Linked DNA regions of Homo sapiens: region 2 is linked to region 1. Evidence: fine-mapped expression QTL. A gene starts in region 1. The other region holds a variant in brackets. All regions are shown on one strand. Distances are between the middles of the regions.

Evidence for each region. PIP is the estimated chance that this variant, and not a neighbour inherited with it, causes the effect.
Region 2: its variant is fine-mapped to the expression of EPHX3 in whole blood (TOPMed, PIP above 0.99). The same link has a PIP of 0.9 or more in blood mononuclear cells.

The regions. Positions count from the first base shown.
Region 1 is chr19:15,226,675-15,235,505 of GRCh38, reverse strand. It overlaps EPHX3 (epoxide hydrolase 3), which reads left to right and starts at 3,058. Exons shown (of 7, transcript NM_024794.3): 1 at 3,058-3,537; 2 at 3,645-3,730; 3 at 4,110-4,267; 4 at 4,416-4,544; 5 at 7,406-7,509; 6 at 7,599-7,735; 7 at 7,844-8,587. The coding sequence starts at 3,295. The coding sequence ends at 8,069. RefSeq lists a silencer at 2,309-2,468 and an enhancer at 2,807-3,308.
Region 2 is chr19:15,204,835-15,214,671 of GRCh38, reverse strand. No RefSeq gene overlaps it. Among named protein-coding and RNA genes, the nearest start is that of NOTCH3, 8.8 kb to the right of the region's middle. The variant C/T (reference allele first, on the strand shown) is at 4,262.

The sequences.
Region 1 (8,831 bases):
GCTGCTTTTTGTTTGAGGGTAGACTTGGGAGAAGCGGGGAGATGAGGGCGGGGGGTCAGTGATGTGTAGGAGAGGAAGAAGGGAGGTTCCCCAGACACCCACCACCCATGCGTCCAGATTAGCGGAGTCGGTTGGGAGAGATCCTGGGAACATCAAATTGTGAGATAATTGATTTAATGGAAGGTGTAAAAGAAAAAGCTGCCAGGCACGGTGGCTCACATCTGTAATCCCAGCACTTTTGGGAGGCCGGGGTGGGAGGATCGCTTGAGGTCAGGAGTTAAGAGACTAGCCTGGCCAACATGGTGAAACTCCCATCTCTACTGAAAAATACAAAAAATTAGCGGGGCGCGGTAGCACACACCTGTAGTCCCGGCTACTCCGGAGGCTGAGGCAGGAGAATTGCTTGAACACTGGAGGCGGAGGTTGCGGTGAGCCGAGATCACACCACTGCATTCCAGCTTGGGTGATATGGTGAGACTCCCATCTCAAAAAAAACAAAAACAAAAAAACCCCCAAAGCTTTGATGTAGGCTAATCACACAACAAAAGAAAGGTAGTGGTTAAGTAGTCCAGGGAGAACAAAAGTTTGTACACTATGGGCAATGTAATCATAGTGGTCTATTCGGCTCTTGAGATGCATTGTTCACTGAGGCAGAACATAAACCACTATTCACCTTTAAGTGGCAACTTCATGGACTTAGTTATGGTCCCAGGACAGTATAATGTTTAGCAGCCTTGACAGTACAAAGGTATATGGATAAAAGTGGGAGGTGGAAAGGGGCAAGAGGTGACAAGTGGAGTGTTTTTAAAGGAAACTAACAGGGAAACAAAAAACGGCACGTCCGGGGTAGTGATGTGAGCAAGTCAGTGGCTGATGTCATACATTGGTTAAGTCAAGAAATAAAGGTCAGGCACGGTGGCTTGCATCTGTAATCCCACTTTGGGAGGTGGAGGCTTGAGGATTGCTTGAGGCCAGGAGTTTGAGACCAGCCTGGACAATATAGCAAGTCGTCTCTCTGAAAAGTTTTTGAAAAATTAGCTGAGTGTGGTGGCACAGGCCTGTAGTCCCAACTACAGGTTGTAGTGCTTGAGCCCAGGAGTTCGAGGCTGCAGTGAGCTATGATCGAAACTCCATCTGAAAAAAAAAGAAAAAGCTAAAAACGTTCCAGTGGCTGCTTCCGGGAGGAAGGGGAGGTGTAGCCACAGATCGCTGCCTTTTTCCCTACATCTTTGCGGATGGCTATTTTACAAGATGTATGTCTTCAGGCAAATGACTTCATCCTCGAATTTCAGGTTCATGATCTATACTACAGGAATGTGATTATGCTACTTAGACTTAATAGGGTTGCTCTATGGTTAAGTGATGGCTGTCCCTAAAATGTTCAAGGATATCGGGAGAAGGTTGCAAAATAGGAGGAAGAAGCTGGCTGCTTTTTTTTTTTTTTTTGAGACGGAGTCTCGCTCTGTCGCCCTGGCTGGAGTGCAGTGGCGCAATCTCAGCTCACTGCAACCTCCGCCTCCTGGGTTCACGCCGTTCTCCTGCCTCAGCCTCCCTAGTAGCTGGGACTACAGGCGCCCGCCACCACGCCTGGCTAATTTTTTGTATTTTTAGTAGAGACAGGGTTTCACCATGTTAGGATGGTCTCGATCTCCTGACCTCGTGATCCGCCCGCCTCGGCCTCCCAAAGTGCTGGGATTACAGGCGTGAGCCACCGCGCCTGGCCAGAAGCTGGCTTCTTGCAGGGACAGCAGGGCCGCAAGGCTCTGTGACTCTAGGCCCCATCACACCCGGCCCTGTCCCACTTCCTCTTTCGGCCAGAACCCCAGAACTCCAGTCATTCATAGGCCGGGTCCTCCTCGGGGGAACCAGGCCTGCCCCCTAGGAATCAGGGTATCCACGCCTCCTCGGCCCGCTCTCGGAGCCTGGGCCTCAACACCTGCAGATTGGCTCCCGGGCCAGGACCTGTCGCTTGAACATCAGTGGCCGCCGCCGTCCAATCACAGACGTACAGGGGCGGGCTGGCGGGCCTGTTGGGCCAGCAGGAGGACGGCGCCGGGCCGAGGCCGCTGGACCCGCCGTTGGAACCACAGCTGGGTGAAGTCAGTGCTGCTAGGTCTTTGGAGCCAGACCGAAGGGAGGGTCGCGCGCCCCTGGGTGGGTAGCACCAGGCGGCGGCCGTCGGCCGGGCCTCCCGAAGCCTCCTCCAGCCGCTAATACCGCCCGCGCCTCCCTCCTAGTCCTAGACCTGGCATTGCCTGTCCCTCTTCTTCGTCTTCCAGACCCTCCTGACCCGCCATATTAGGTCCCGGCCCCGCCCTCCGTCTCATTGCCCATTGCCCACCCCACCCCACCGCCCCCTCCCCGGCCTACCGTCAGCTCATTGGCCCAGGCTCCCGCCTTCTTCGCCCAATGTTAGGCCTCACCTCCTCTAGGATCCACCCTCTCCCCGCCCACCCGCATAAGCCAGGCCCACCATTCCAACTCTTTCTCCTTTTTGGCTTGTAGGCCGCACCTACTCTGCATATGCCCCGCCCCTCACTCCAGGTGTCGCCCACTTAACTGAAGATCCAGGATCCCCTCCTTAAGGTTTGTCTGGGCTCGGAATTGCCTTTTTTTTTTTTCTTTTTTGAGACGGAGTTTCCCTGTTGTGACCCAGGCTGGAGTACAGTGGCGCGATCTCAGCTCACTGCAACCTCCACGTCCCGGGTTCAAGCGATTCTCCTGCCTCAGCCTCCCAAGTAGCTGGGACTACAGGCGCCCGCCACCACGCCCAGCTAATTTTTGTATTTTTAGTAGAGACGGGGTTTCACCACGTTGCCCAGGCTGGTCTCGAGCTCTTGATCTCAGGTGATCCGCCCGCCTCGGCCTACCAAAGTGCTGGGATTACAGGCGTGAGCCACCGCACCCGGCCCGGAATTGCCGCCTTTAGACCCTCACCCACCCGCTGCTGAGTCTTCCTGGGCCCCGCCCCGGCCCTAAGCCCCGCACAGGACCTGCTAGGCCCCGCCCATTTATTTCCCCCCTTTCCAACCTCTTCCTCCCCAGCCTCCGCACCCTACCCTTGTTTCCTGTCCCTGTCGCGCCCAGGTGTTTACCTGGCACTCAGGTGAGTGGTGCGCTCTGGCTGTTTTCTGTCGGAGCCGCCCGCCTCTTCCTTCAGCGCGTCCCACAAATCCCGACGGCACGGAGGGGCCCCAGGCCAAGGGCGATGGGCCCCTGAGCCCTGACACCGCTTCGCCGCTGCTGCAGGTGCCCCTGGCCGGCAGCGCCGCCGTGGTCCCGGAGCGCGGCGACATGCCGGAGCTGGTGGTGACCGCGCTGCTGGCGCCGTCGCGCCTGTCGCTGAAGCTGCTGCGCGCCTTCATGTGGAGCCTGGTGTTCTCGGTGGCGCTGGTGGCCGCGGCGGTCTACGGCTGCATAGCGCTCACGCACGTGCTGTGCCGGCCCCGGCGCGGCTGCTGCGGGCGCCGTCGGAGCGCGTCCCCCGCCTGCCTGAGCGACCCCTCGCTGGGTGAGCACGGTTTCCTGAACCTCAAGGTGATCGCACGGGGGCGCTATCGGGGCTGCGGGGTCGCGTGGGGTCGAGACGGTTCAAGCCTCGGGAGAGAGGGTTCCCCAGGCTTCAGGCTGTGCCCTCCCCCTAGAGCTCGGGCCTGCGTCTGCACTATGTCTCGGCTGGACGAGGTAACGGACCCCTCATGCTGTTTCTGCACGGCTTCCCTGAGAACTGGTACGTCTGGGGCCAGGGGCCTGAGGCCCACGGGACTCGGGGGCAGGTGGAGCTTGGGCTCCCAAGAGGCAGGGAGGAGGGCTGTATAGATCGGGACAAGCTGAACATAGATGGGGATAGGGGTACTGAGCCAGCATACCCAGGATCCCTAGGCCCTGAAGGGACAGGACAAAGGGGTATTGAGGTTGATTGAAGTTCCCTGGATTCAGGGTGTAGCTGGCTTCAGCCTCAGCCTCTGCCTCTGCCTGGGATTCCCCATCCTCCTTTTAGGGGAAGTTTAGAGCAGGAAGGAGGGTTTGCCAATGGTTGCTGATGTGCGTAGGGTGCAGGTGCAACCTGAGGGCCCTGACTCAGCCTCCCTCCCTCGCCCGCCTGGCAGGTTCTCCTGGCGTTACCAGCTCCGGGAGTTCCAGAGCCGCTTCCATGTTGTGGCTGTGGACTTGCGAGGCTATGGCCCCTCGGATGCACCTCGGGATGTGGACTGCTACACAATCGACCTGCTGCTGGTGGACATCAAAGATGTCATCCTAGGCCTGGGTGCAGACATACCCCCATCCTAGGCGTGGCCTCCCTCATCCTGCACACACGCATACCCCCGCTTTCTCCTTGCTGGAACCTACTTCCCCCATCCCTGCTTCAGTCCTACTGGGCACCTCACTTATGCGAGCTCCTTGAATTCCCACAGGTTACTCGAAGTGCATCCTTGTGGCCCATGACTGGGGTGCCCTCCTTGCCTGGCATTTCTCCATCTACTACCCATCCCTGGTCGAGCGGATGGTTGTGGTCAGTGGTGCCCCCATGTCGGTGTACCAAGGTGTGTGTGGGAGTCCGGGACACTGGGATGTACTTATGTGCAAGGGGGCAGGGACATGTGTCTGTGTTTTCAATTCTCTGTATACCTGTCAACACATCAGGGGCTGAGGGTGCAGCAATCAACCCAGGTCCCTTCGGTTGTGGAACTCCTCATTCGGAAATTAATGACACGCCAGACCCAGTGGCTCACACCTGTAATCCCAGCCCTCCGGGAGGCTGAGGTGGGAGGATCACTTGAGGCCAGGAGTTCAAGACCAGTCTGGTCAACATAGCAAGACCCCAACTGTCTCTACAAAAAAAAAAAAAAAATGTAATTAGCCAGGCATTGGTGGTGCATGCCTGTAATCCCAGCTACTCGGGAGGCTGATGCAGGAGAATCTCTTGAACCTGGGAGGTGGAGGTTGCAGTGAGCTGAGATCATGCCATTGCACTCCAGCCTAGGCAACAAGAGCAAAACTCCATCTCAAAAAATAAATAAATAAAATAAAGTATGGCCAGGCGTGGTGGCTCCTGCCTGTAATCCCTGCACTTTGGGAGGCCAAAGCCGGTGGATTGCTTGAGCCCAGGGGTTCAAGACCAGCCTGGCCAACATGGTGAAACCCCGTCTCTACTAAAAATACAAAAAAATCAGCCAGGCATGGTAGTGCACGCTTGTAGTCTCAGCTACTCGGGAGGCTGAGGCAAGAGAATCACTTGAACCTGAGAAGTGGAGGTTGCAGTAAGCCAAGATCGCACCACTGCACTCCAGCCTGGATGACAGAGTGAGACTCTGTCTCAAAAATAAAATAAAATAAAATAAATCACAATACACTTAGGAGTAATCCACATTTTTTTATAGCACTTACAGTAACAAGGAATATGCACACAGTAACCTACTTAAGGCTCCTGGGCTTATGAAGGTTGTATTATCCCCATGTTCCAGCTGGAGGAAACTGAGGCTGGGGAGGTTAACAATGTCTATCATATCACCTGATGTTAATATGCAGCACTGTGGTCATAACTGTGCTCTCTCTCTCTCTTTTGTTGTTTTTTTTCTTTTTCTTTTCTTTTCTTTTTTTTTTTTTTTTTTTTTTTTTTGAGACAGAGTCTTGCTCTGTCGCCAGGCTGGAGTGCAGTGGCGTGATCTCAGTTCACTGCAACCTCCGCCTCCCAGGTTCAAGCGATTCCCCTGCCTCAGCCTCCCAAGTAGCTGGGATTACAGGCCACCATGCCGGGCTAATTTTTTGTATTTTAGTAGAGACGGGGTTTCACCATGTTGGCCAAGATGGTCTTGATCTCCTGACCTTGTGATCTGCCCACCTTGGCCTCTCAAAGTGCTGGGAGTATAGGCGTGAGCCACCACGCCTGGCCCCTTTTTTTTTTTTTTTTCTTGAGATGGAGTCTCACTCTGTGCAGTGCAGTGGCGCAATGTCGGCTCACGGCAACCTCCGCCTCTCAGGTTCAAGTGATTCTCTTGCCTCAGCCTCCTCAGTAGCTGAGACTACAGATGTGTGCCACCATGACCGGCTAATTATTTTGTATTTTTAGTAGAAATGGGGTTTCAGCATGTTGGCCAGGCTGGTCTTGAACTCCTGGGCTCAAGCGATCTGCCGGCCTCAGCCTCCCAAAGTGCTGGGATTACAGGAGTGAGCCACCCTGCCTGGCAACCTCTACCTCCTGGGTTCAAGTGACTCTCCTTCCTCAGCCTCCAGAGTAGCGGGGACTGCAGATATGCCCCAACACGCCCAGCTAATTTTTGTATTTTTAGTGGAGACGGGTTTTCACTATGTTGCCCAGGTTAGTGTCTAACTCCTGATCTCAAGTGATCCACCCGCCTTGGCTTCCCAAAGTGCTGGGATTACAGGCGTGAGCCACCGCACCCAGCCTATTATTGTTTACTTGTCTGTCTCCCCATCTAGACTGTCAGCTCCCTGAGGGCAGGGAGTTTTTTGTCTTTTGGGGGTGTCTTTTTTTGTGTTTTGTTTTTTTTCCTTTGAGACAGTCTTGTTCTGTGGTCCAGGCTGGAGTGCAGTGCTGTAATTGCAGCTCACTGCAGCCTCAGACTCCTGGGCTCAAGCGATCCTCCCACTTCTGCTTCTCAAGTAGCTGGGACTATAGGCACACACCACCACACCCTGCTAATTTTTAAAAAATTATTTTTTGGAGGCCGGGTGCGGTGGTTCACGTCTGTAATCCCAGAACTTTGGGAGGCTGAGGCGGGTGGATCATGAGGTCCGGAGATCGAGACCATCCTGGCTAACACTGTGAAACCCTGTCTCTACTAAAAATACAAAAAAAATTAGCCGGACGTGGTGGCGGGTGCCTGTAGTCCCAGCTACCGGGAGGCTGAGGCAGGAGAATGGCGTGAACCCGGGAGGCGGAGCTCGCAGTGAGCCAAGATCACACCACTGCACTCCAGCCTGGGCGACAGAGCGAGACTCTGTCTCAAAAAAAAAAAAAAAAAAAAAAAAAAAAAAAAATTATAGATACAGGGGTTTCCTTAAGTTGCCTAGGATGAACAGGGAGTTTTGACTGTCTCATTCACTGCTGTGTCTAGAACAAGGCCTGGCATGCAGTAGTTGCTCAATAAATGTTAGCTGAATAAAGCAGAGGAAACGCACCCTGGCCTGGGCAGAGGAAGCACACCTTTGGATATGGGGGTTCCCAGGAGATGCCCCCATCCTGTGGATAGTGAAACATGGCAGGAGGGAATGTAGCTGGTGCCCAGGCCAGGAGGGGTATCTAGTACCTTCACAGACCCAGGCAGGCAGCAGTGGCATTCCTGAGGCTTGTGTCCCTGACCTGGGTATGTGTAGGGGTGCAGGTGTATGGGGCCACCCCAGGAGCAGGCCTTATATCTCTCCCCCAACCCTCCCACCCCAGACTATTCCCTGCACCACATCAGCCAGTTCTTCCGTTCCCACTACATGTTCCTGTTCCAGCTGCCCTGGCTGCCCGAGAAGCTGCTGTCTATGTCTGACTTTCAGGTACAGAGGGTGCAGGTTGAAGGGAGGAGGGAAGCAGGTCGGGGCTGGGCAGGCTGGGCACTGAAGCCAGAGTCCTGCTGTGTACCTAGATTCTGAAGACCACCCTCACCCACCGCAAGACAGGCATCCCATGCTTGACCCCCAGCGAGCTCGAGGCCTTCCTTTATAACTTCTCACAGCCTGGTGGCCTCACTGGGCCCCTCAACTACTACCGAAACCTCTTCAGGTGAGACCAGTTGCCAAGCATAAGCTCAGGAGATTTGCAGGGGCAGGGGGGTGGGAGGCAACCATCCTTCTGCCTGTCTGTCTGCCTGTCTGTCTGTCCTGGCCACAGGAACTTCCCCCTGGAACCCCAGGAGCTGACCACACCCACATTGCTGCTGTGGGGGGAGAAGGACACTTACTTGGAGCTGGGGCTGGTGGAAGCCATCGGCAGCCGCTTTGTGCCGGGCCGCTTGGAGGCCCACATCCTGCCAGGCATAGGGCATTGGATCCCACAGAGCAACCCCCAGGAGATGCACCAGTACATGTGGGCCTTCTTGCAAGACCTGCTGGACTAGTGGTCCTTGCTGGCCTGCCCAGGAGGCATGGATACTCAGGAAGGAACACACACCCATTATCTGTGTGTGCCTGGGAGTCCATACAATGTCCATACATGGGTGAACTCTTGAATCGCTCATAGGCATGGGACTCCTGGATCCCACACAAGCGCACCTATGGGTGCCTCGGGACACACCAACCCCTATACTCACACACAGGCATGGATGCATGTGTGTGTAACAAACACTTTGACCCTGGGAACTGGGTATACCTCTCTTCCAGTGGAGCCAGATGCCGAGACCGAGTGTCCCACCTCCTCCCTTCCTGGGGCCTCACTCTGCGCTTTGCCAAAGTCGCTTCTCTGCCATAGCTGCACAGACCTTAAACCCTGACCTTCCTGTCCCTGCCTTCGACCTCCTGCCTGGGTCTTCAGCTCAGTGCTACTCTGAATACAATACTGCTGACCACATTTGGCTACTTCAGCTTAAATGTATGTTAATTGAAATGAAATACAATGAAAATGCAGTGCTCAGTCCCACCAGCTGTATTTCATTTTTTTCCCCTTGAGACAGAGTCTTGCTGTGTCGCCCAGGCTGGATGGAGTGCAGTGGACGCAATCTAGGCTCACTGCAACCTCCACCTGCCGGGTTCAAGCGATTCTTGTGCCTCAGCTTCCCGAGTAGCTGGGACTACAGGAGCGTCACCAGGCCTGACTAATTTTAGTATTTTCAGTAGAGATGGGGTTTCACCATGTTGGCCGGGCTGGTCTCGAACTGCTGACC
Region 2 (9,837 bases), 21 kb after region 1:
TAGTGACAGAGCGAGACTCTATCTCAAAAAAAAATTTTTTTTTTTCTTCTGAAGAGACAGGTGGGGTCTCGCTATGTTGACCAGGCTGGTTCTGAACTCCTGGACTCAAGTGATCCTCCTTCCTTGGCCTCCCAAAGTGCTGGGATTACAGGCGTGAGCCACTGCACTCAACCTTGATGGTTCTTGTTTGCCTATTTGTTTCTTGTCTGCTTCCCTTCTCAGGGCAGGAACTGGCTCTGTCTTGGGTCACCTCTGTCTACAATAAGGCCTGGCACCAAGTAGGTGTCCAGTAAATGTTTGTTGAATGACTGAATGAAGGTGAGAAGAGCTGGAGGTTCAGAGTGAGCAGCCAGGGGAAAGGAGCCTTTGTAGTATGAGAAGCATTTTCCTACCAGTGGGAACTCTGCATGCAAAGGCTGACAAGGCTGAGAGGCAGGGAGATGAAGCTGATGAGGTGGGGAGGAATTGTGTCACTTCAGGCAATGGGGAGCCATGGAAGTTTCAAGCATCGGAGTGTCCCAGGGAAGCAGTGTCCAGGGGACATGGCTGGGTCCAGCCTCCCCACACTTGCCGAAGGCCCACACTCAATTGCCCTCACTCCTGCTGGTTCTCACTAGGCTCCCACAGCCCACTGCCTGGCTCGAGAACCTGGCCCCAGCTTCCGCGCAGAGGGCGGGACTGTAGTCCCAAGAGGAGAAGCCAAGGGCACATTCTCAGGTTCCCGGTCAGCGGGCCGGCAGCTGTGTCTTGGCCTGGCCCCAGGTCCCGCGTCCCCAGGGACTGAGCTCATGGAGGAGAAATGCAGTCCCCAGCCAAGGCAGCCAGCAGGGGCCGGGGAGGGGGCTCAAGCCCACCCCCACCATGTTGGGAACTGTGCGGCCGCAGCTGCAAGGCCATGGGAAGGGTTGCTCCGACTGCCCAGTCCCCTAGGGATCTGGACACCTTGGGTGGGTCCCACCACCGTGGCTGGAGGGCAGTGGCAGGAACCCGCAGCTGAGACCCCATCTTCGGCTGAGCGGGTGCTTTGTAGATGGGTCTTTCTTCTTCTTCTTTTTTTTTTTTTTTTGAGATGGAGTCTCGCTCTGTCTCCCAGGCTGGAGTGCAGTGGCACAATCTCTGCTCACTGCAAGCTCCACCTCCCAGGTTCACGCCATTCTCCTGCCTCAGCCTCCCAAGTAGCTGAGACTACAGGCGCCCGTCACCACACCCGGCTAATTTCTTTTGTATTTTTAGTAGAGTCGGGGTTTCACCATGTTAACCAGGATGGTCTCAATCTCCTGACCTTGTGATCCGCCCACCTCGGCCTCCCAAAGTGCTGGGATTACAGGCTTGAGCCACTGCACCCGGCGGGGTCTTTTTCTTTTTTTCTTGAGATAGAGTCTTGCTCTGTTGCCCAGGCTGGAGTGCAGTGGTGCGATCTCGGCTCACTGCAACCTCTGCCTCCTGGGTTGCAGGGATGATTCTCCTGCCTCAAGTGATTCTCCTGCCTCAGCCTCCCAAGTAGCTGGGATTACAGGCGTCTGCCACCAAGCCTGACTAATTTTTGTATTTTTAGTAGAGATGGGGTTTCACCATATTGGCCAGGCTGGTCTCGAACTCCTGACCTCAAGTGATCCGCACGTCTCAGCCTCCCCAAGTGCTGGGATTACAGGCATGAGCCACCGCTCCTGGCCGGGTCTTTCTTCTTTTAGTCTGTATTCCCCCGTGAAGTCCTCTGCCTGGGTTTTCACCGTTACTTCCCCCTCTCCCACAGATCAGGGTGTGCTGTATCAGCAGTCACAGACTCTGAACTTCCTGCCTAGTGAAATGTGTGTCCAGGGTCCTTGGTTGCTCCTAGTGATGAGGAGCTCAGCACCTCCTACAGCATCCATTCCAGCAGAAAGCCCTTTCTCAATCGCTTGAACACCGGAGGCGGAGGTTTCAGTGAGCCGAGATCGAGCCACTGCAGCCTAGCCTGGGTGACAGAATGACATTCTGTCTCAAAATAAATAAATAAATAAATAAAATAAAGAAAAAAAAGAAAGAAAGCCCCTTCTCAGATGGGCCAAGGGAGGAGCTGGCCTTTCCTTGAGGGCCCTAACTTTGCCCCTCAATCCCTAGACCCTTCTGTGGAACCATAGACCACCCCCGCCTGCAAAATTATACTGAACAGAGTGGTTTGAGGCCCCTGAAGTGGCTAAGTGGCTTTTTTTTCGGGGGACAGGGTCTCACTCTGTCACCAGGCTGGAGTGCAGTGGTGCGATCTTGGGTCACTGCAACCTCCACCTTCTGGGTTCAAGTGATTCTCCTGCCTCAGCCTCCCGAGTAGCTGGGACTACAGGCACCTGCCACCACGCCCGGCTAATTTTTTGTATTTTTAGTAGAGATGGGGTTTCACCATGTTAGCCAGGATGGTCTCGATCTCCTGACCTCGTGATCTGCCCACCTTGGCCTCCCAAAGTGCTGGGATTACAGGCGTGAGCCACCTCGCCCGGCCCTGAAGTGGCTCTTCTGGGCTGGGCTTCCCAGCTCCTTCAGCCCCTTCCTGAGTCACCAAACCGTCCTACGTCACCTGCTTTTTGCTCACTCCATGCTGGGGGATGCTGGGACCCTCAAGAAGCCTCATCCTCTGTCTAACCCCCAAGGAGCCCTCAGTCCTTTGTTTGTTTGTTTTTTGTTTTTGTTTTGAGACAGGGTCTCAGTCTGTCACCCAGGCTGGAGTGCAGGGGCACGATCTCAGCTCACTGCAACCTCCACCTCCCAGGATCAAGCAATCCTCCCACCTCAGTCTTCTGAATTGCTGGGACTACAGGTATGCACCAGCATGCCCAGCTAATTTTTGTGTTTTTTGTAGACACAGGGTTTTACCATGTTACCCAGGCTGGTCTGAAATGCCTGTCCTCAGGTGACCCACCCCCCTCGTCCTCTCAAAGTGTTGGGATGACAGGCATGAGCCCCTGTGCCCAGCCAGCCCTTAGTCTTTAAATAGGGGACAAACCAGGGTACAGACACCCCCAACCCCTTGTGAACAAGGCTGAGCCATGGAGAAAAAGGGCACCGGGAGAGCGGGGGTGTCGGGGAGAGAGCAGCGCAGACTGAGGGACAGGGAGGACTTCCCGGAGTGGTATCCCTGAAGAATGGATAGGAGGTAACCAGAAATAGAAATAAGGGGCCAGGCACAGTGGCTCAGGCCTGGAATCCCAGCACTTTGGGAGGCCAAGAGCAGGAGGATCGCTCAAGCTCTGGAGTTTGAGACCAGCCTGGGCAACATAGCGAGACACTCATCGCTACAAAAAATACAAAAATAAGCAGGGTGTGGTGCTGAGCACCTGTAATTCCAACTACTCGGGAGGCCAAGGTGGGAGGATCACTTAAGCCTGGGAGGTCAAGGCTGCAGTGAGCTGTGTTCACGCCACTGCACTCCAGCCTGGCCTATAGAACGAGACCCTGTCTCTATTAAAAATAAGTAAATAAATAAATAGAAAGAAAGAAAGAGAGCAGGCCAGGCGTGGTGGCTCACGCCTGTAATCCCAGCACTTTGGAAGGCTGAGGCGGGCGGATCACTTGAGGTCAGGAGTTCGAGACCAGCCTGGCCAACATGGTGAAACCCCATCTCTACTAAAAATACAAAAATTAGCCGGGTGTGGTGGCCCGCCCCTGTAATTCCATGGGAGGCTGAGGCCGGAGAATCACTTGAACCTGGGAGGTGGAGGCTGCAGTGAGCCGAGGTCACACCACTACTGCACTCCAGCCTGGGTGACAAGAGCGAAACTCTGTCTCAAAAAAAAAAAAAAAAAAGAAAAGAAAAGAAAAAAATAAAGAGAGCGGCATGGGCAAAGGGGTGGCCTGTGTGAGAACTGTGTGAGAAACAGCAGAACATTCCCTCTAGCTGGAAGAAAATGAATTTTTGAAGAGGTCACACTGGCTGTGAGTTCCTGCTTGGGGAGGAAGCAAAAGGGTGTTTCTGTGCAGCTGGGTGTCTCAGGCAGAGGGAAGCACCCAGGCAAAGACCATGGGAGCACAAGGCCTGCTGGTTGCATCTGGGGTTTGACATGGTGTGACAATGGTTTTTTGTTTGTTGTTTTTGCTGGGGGTTTGGTGGGGAGGGTTAGGAAGGAGAGGGTCAGTCCCGGCCCAAGGGGCCCAAATGCAGGACTGAGGGCCTTGGATTTCCTTCCTGGGTGGTAGGCATGACGCAGGACTAGATCTGTGCCTGTCCCCATGGGCCTCTTGACTCAGCACAGTCACCGTGAGTCAGTGTGTGCCCCTTCTTAGGCAACTT[C/T]TGTTATTCCTCTGCCCAACCCCTACCCCGCCCCTGTACTCCATGTGGCCGGGAGTCACTGAGACCCAGGTTCATTTTTTTTCTTTTTCTTCCTTTTTTTTTTTTTTAATAAGGTCACTCTGTTGGCCAGGCTGCAGTGCAGTGGTGCGACTCGACCATGGCTCCCTGCAGTCTGGAACTCCTAGGCTCAGGTGATCCTCCTGCCTCAGACGCCCACATAGCTGGGACTACAGGTGTATGGGGTCTCACTGTGCTACCCAGGCTGGTCTCGAACTCTAGGCTCAGGTGATCCTCCTGCCTCAGCCCCCTGAGTAGCTGGGACAACAGGTGCACACCACCACACCCAGCTAATTCTTTCTTTTCTTTTTTTGTAGAGACAGAGTCTCACTATGTGGCCCAGTCTGGTCTCAAACTCTGAGCTCAAGTGATCCTTCTGCCTCAGCCTCCCAAAGTTCTGAGATTACAGGTGTGCTACACTGTGCCCAGCCAGTTTTTTTTTTTTCTTTTGAGAAAGTCTTGCTCCAAGGCTGGAATGCAGTGTCATGATCATCTGCAGCCTGGAACTCCTGGGCTCAAGCGATCCTCCTGCCTCAGTGTCCCGAGTGGCTGGGACTATAGGCGTGCACCGCTACACCTGGCTTGAGACTTAGCTTCAAACCTCAACTTTTCTTCCAGAAAGGCTGCAGTGAGTCACTGTTTTTTTTGTTTTTTGTTTTTTTTGAGATGGAGTTTCACTATTGTTGCCCAGGCTGGAGTGCAGTGGTGCGATCTCGGCTCACTGCAACCTCTGCCTTCCAGGTTCAAGCGATTCTCCTGCATCAGCCTCCTGAGTAGCTGGGATTACAGCCACCCGCCACCGTGCCCAGCTAAGTTTTGTATTTTAGTAGAGACGGGGCTTCACCATGTTAGCCAGGCTGGTCTCAAACTCCTGACCTCAGGTGATCCACCCACCTCAGCCTCCCAAAGTGCTGGGATTCCAGGCGTGAGCCACCGCGCCTGGCCTGTCTTCTCTAAGTTATATGGCTGTACCTGTAAGATGGAAATGATTGAACATCTTCACCTCCTGCCCTCTGAGAAGCCAGGGCAAGACCAGGGGTTGTCAGTGATGCTAGCCGCTGGTCAGTCATTCAACTTTCTTCTTCTTCTTTTTTTTTTTTTGAGACAGAGTCTCGCTTTGTCACCCAGGCTGGAGTGCAGTGGCGCGATCTTGGCTCACTGCAACCTCCACTTCCCGAGTTCAAGTGGTTGTCCTGCCTTAGCCTCCTGAGTAGCTGGGATTACAGGCATGCGCCACCATGCCCGGCTAATTTTTGTATTTTTAGTAGAGACAGGGTTTCACCATGTTGGTCAGGCTGGTCTGGAACTCCTGACCTTGTGATCTGCCCGCCTCGGCCTCCCAAAGTGTTGGGATTACAGGCGTGAGCCACTGTGCCCGGGCCTCAACTTTCATCCTTAGCACTCTCTCTCTCTCTCTCTTTTTGAGACAGCTCTGTCACCCAGGTTGGAGTGCAGTGGTGTGATCATAGCTCACTGCAGCCTGGAACTCCTGGGCTCAAGCGATCCTTCCGCCTCAGCCTCTTCTTTTTTTTTTTTTTTTTTTTTTTTGAGATGGAGTCTCGCTGTGTCGCCCAGGCTGGAGTGCAGTGGCACGATCTCGGCTCACTGAAAGCTCTGTCTCCCAGGTTCACACCATTCTCCTGCCTCAACCTCCCGAGTAGCTGGGACTACAGGCGCCCATCACCACGCCCGGCTAATTTTTTGTATTTTTTAAATAGAGACAGGGTTTCACCGTGTTAGCCAGGATGGTCTCGATCTCCTGACCTCATGATCCGCCCGCCTCGGCCTCCCAAAGTACTGGGATTACAGATGTGAGCCACCGCGCCCAGCCCCTCAGACTCTTAAGTAGCTGGGACTACCAGTGTGTGCCCATGCCCAGATAATTAATTTTTTTTTTTTTTTTTTTTTGTGACGGAGTCTCACTCTGTCACCCAGGCTGGAGTGCAGTGGCACAATCTCGGCTCACTGCAACTTCTGCCTCCCGGGTTCAAGCGATTCTCTTGCCTCAGCCTCTGAGTAGCTGGGACTACAGGCACGTGCCACCATGCCTGGCTAATTTTTCGTATTTTTTAGTAGGGACGGGGTTTCACCATGTTAGCCAGGATGGTCTCCATCTCCTGAACTTATGATCCTCCCGCCTTGGCCTCCCAAATGGTGGGATTACAGGGGTGAGCCACCACACCCGGCAATTTTAAAATTTTTTATAGAGATGGGATTTCACTATGTTGCCCAGGCTTATCTGGAATTCCTGAGCTCAAGCAATTCTTCTGCATCTGCCTCCTAAAGTGTGATTACAGGCATGAGCCACCATGCCCGGCTGTCTCTCTTTGACAATCCTTCTCTGTCTCCTTTGCTTCTTTCTCTTTCAGCCTTTAAAAATCATCCATCCAGCCAGGCGTGGTGGCTCACGCCTGTAATCCAGCGCTTTGGGAGGCTAAAGCGGGCAGATCACAAGGTCAGGAGTTTGAGACCAGCCTGGACGGTATGGTGAAACCCTGTCCCTACTAAAAATACACAAAGTTATCTGGGCATGGTGGTGCACCTGTAACCCCAGCTACTCAGGAGGCTAAGGCAGGAGAATCTCTTGAACCTGGGAGGCAGAGGTTGCAGTGAGCCAAGATTGCGCCACTGCACTCCGGCCTAGGGAACAGAGCAAGAGACCGTCAAAAAAAAAAAAAAAATCCATCCAGCCAGGCACAGTGGTTCATGCCTGTAATCCCAGCATTTTGGGAGGCCGAGGCGGGTGGATCACAAGGTCAGGAGTTCGAGACCAGCCTGGCCAAGATAGTGAAACCCTCGTTTCTACTAAAATACAAAAATTAGTCAGGCATGGTGGTGAGTGCCTGTAATCCCAGTTACTTGAGAGCTGAGGCAGAGAATTGATTGAATCCAGGAGGCGGAGGTTGCAGTGAGCTGAGATCACACCACTGCACTCCAGCCTGGGTGACAGAGTGAGACTCCGTCTCAAAAAAAAAAAAAATCATCCATCCAAAGTATTAATGGACCACTGGATAAGTAATGTGTGGTATAGCCATTCAATGAAATATTACTTAGCCATAAAAAGGAAGGAAGGCCGGGCACAGTGGCTCATGCCTGTAATCCCAGCACTTTGGGAGGCTGAGACCAGCCTGGCCAACATGGTGAGGCTCTATTAAAAACATAAATTTTTATATTTTTACAAAATAACTAGGATTATTAACTACTAAAAATACAAAAATTAGCTGAGTGTGGTGGCAAGTACCTGTAGTCACAGCTATTCAAGAGGCTGAGGCAGGAGAATCACTTGAACCCAGGAGATGGAGGTTGCAGTCAGCTGAGATCGTGCCACTGCACTCCAGCCTGGGTGCAACAGAGTGAGACCCTGTCTTGAAAAATAATAATAATAATAATAATAATAATAATAATAATAATAATAATAACTAATAAAATAAAATTAAAAGGAAGGAAGCCAGGATCCATGCTAAAACATAGAACAACCCCAAAAACATGATGAGAAGCCAGACACAAAAGGCTACATAGTGTATGATTCCATTGACACGAAATGCCCAGAATGGATAAATTCATAGAGACAGAAAGTGGATTAGTGGGTTCGAGGGCCTGGAGGAGGGAGAATGGGGAGGTTTCCGTTTGCAGGGATGGAAATGATCTGTAACTAGAGGTGATGGTCACACAGTATGAACACACTTTAAAGTGGTCAATGTTTAATTTTACGTTATGTGAATTTTACCTCAATTAAAACAAAAAGCACCAGAGAAGGCCAGGAGTTGTGGGGCGTGTCTATAGTCCCAGCTACTCGGGAGGCTGAGGAAGGAGGGTCACTTGGGCCCAGGAGTTCGAGGCTGCAGTGAACTATGATTGTGCCACTGGAACCCTGCCTGGGAAACAGAGCAAGACACTGTCTCAAAAAAAAAAAAAAGAAAGAAAGAAAGAAAACAACAACAACAACAACAAAAACAAACGAACAAAAAAAGAAAGCAAAACAATGATCAGGAGAAATAATCAAAAGATGCTAAAATCTATGGGGGAAAGCTTATTGGGCAGTAGGATATTCACACGGTCTCAATGTATCTCCCTATAGGGTAACTGTTCTGCGATGCTAGCCCCTGGTCAGTCATTCAACTTTCATCCCCCTTACAAAGGGGGAGGATGGAAAGGGAGGAAAATGGCACCCTTATAGCAGGGAAACTTGACCAACTTTGCCCCGGTGATGACAGCTGAACATCACCAATGCTGGGAACTGATGTCAGGAACCTCCTGATACGATGCACCCAGGAGGACCCAGCAATGCTTCTGTGGTTTCTGCCGAAGATGCACAGCCTGAACCTGATCACGAGGAAATGGCAGGCCAGCCATTCCTGCACAACTGCTGGCCATTCTGCACAACTGACCTCAGCTCTCCAAAAACGTCAGTGTCATGAAAGACAAAGAAAGACTGAGGAACCAATTCAGATTAAAAGAGACCAAGAGATATAAGGATTAGAATTAGCCGGGTGTGGTGGCTAGCTACTTGGGGGGCTGAGGCAGGAGAATCCTAGCTACTTGGGAGGCTGAGGCAGGAGAATCCTAGCTACTTGGGAGGCTGAGGCAGGAGAATCAGTTGAACCTGGGAGGTGGAGGTTACAGTGAGTCAAGATCATGCCACTGCACTCCAGCCTGGGTGACAGTGCGAGACTCTGTCTCAAAACAAAAGGATTAGATGCAACTCATGATGCAGCATTAGATAGATCCTGGGCCAGCAAAGAAACATTGCAATAAAAGATTTAATTTTTTTTTTCTTTTCTTTTCTTTTTTTTCTTGAGACTGAATCATGCTCTTTTGCCCAGTCTGGAGTGCAGTGTCGCGATCTCGGCTCACTGCAAACTCCGCCTCCTGGGTTCAAGCGATTCTCGTGCCTCAGCCTCCCGAGTAGCTGGGATTACAGGCACTTGTCACCATGCCCAGTTAATTTTTGTATTTTTAGTAGAAAAGGGGTTTCACCATGTTGGCCAGGCTGGTCTTGAACTCCTGACCTCAGGTGATCAGCCGGCCTCAGCCTCCCAAAGTGCTGGAATTACAGGTGTGAACCACCGCGCCCGGCCACTAATTTTTTTGTTTTTTCCCCACAGGGTCTTGCTCTGTTATCCAGACTGGAGTGGAGCAGGATGATCACAGCTCACGGCAGCCTCGACCTCCTGGGCTCAAGCAACGCTCTCACCTCAGCCTCCTGAGTAGCTGGGACTACAGGTACGCGCCACTATATGCTGCTAATTTTTTCTAGTTTTGTAGAGTCAGGAGTCTTACTATGTTGCCCAGGCTGGCCTTGAACTCTTGGCCTCAACCAATCCTCCCTCCTTGGCCTCTCAAAGTGTTGGGATTACAGGTGTGAGCCACTGTACCTGGCCCAATAAAGGATATTATTTGGGCAACTAGCAAACTTTGAATACAGACTGGGGCAAAAACTGTAGTATGTTTATGAAAGAGGATACCCTTGTTCTCAGGAAACACACAGCAAAGTATTTGAAGGCAAAGGAACATCATAT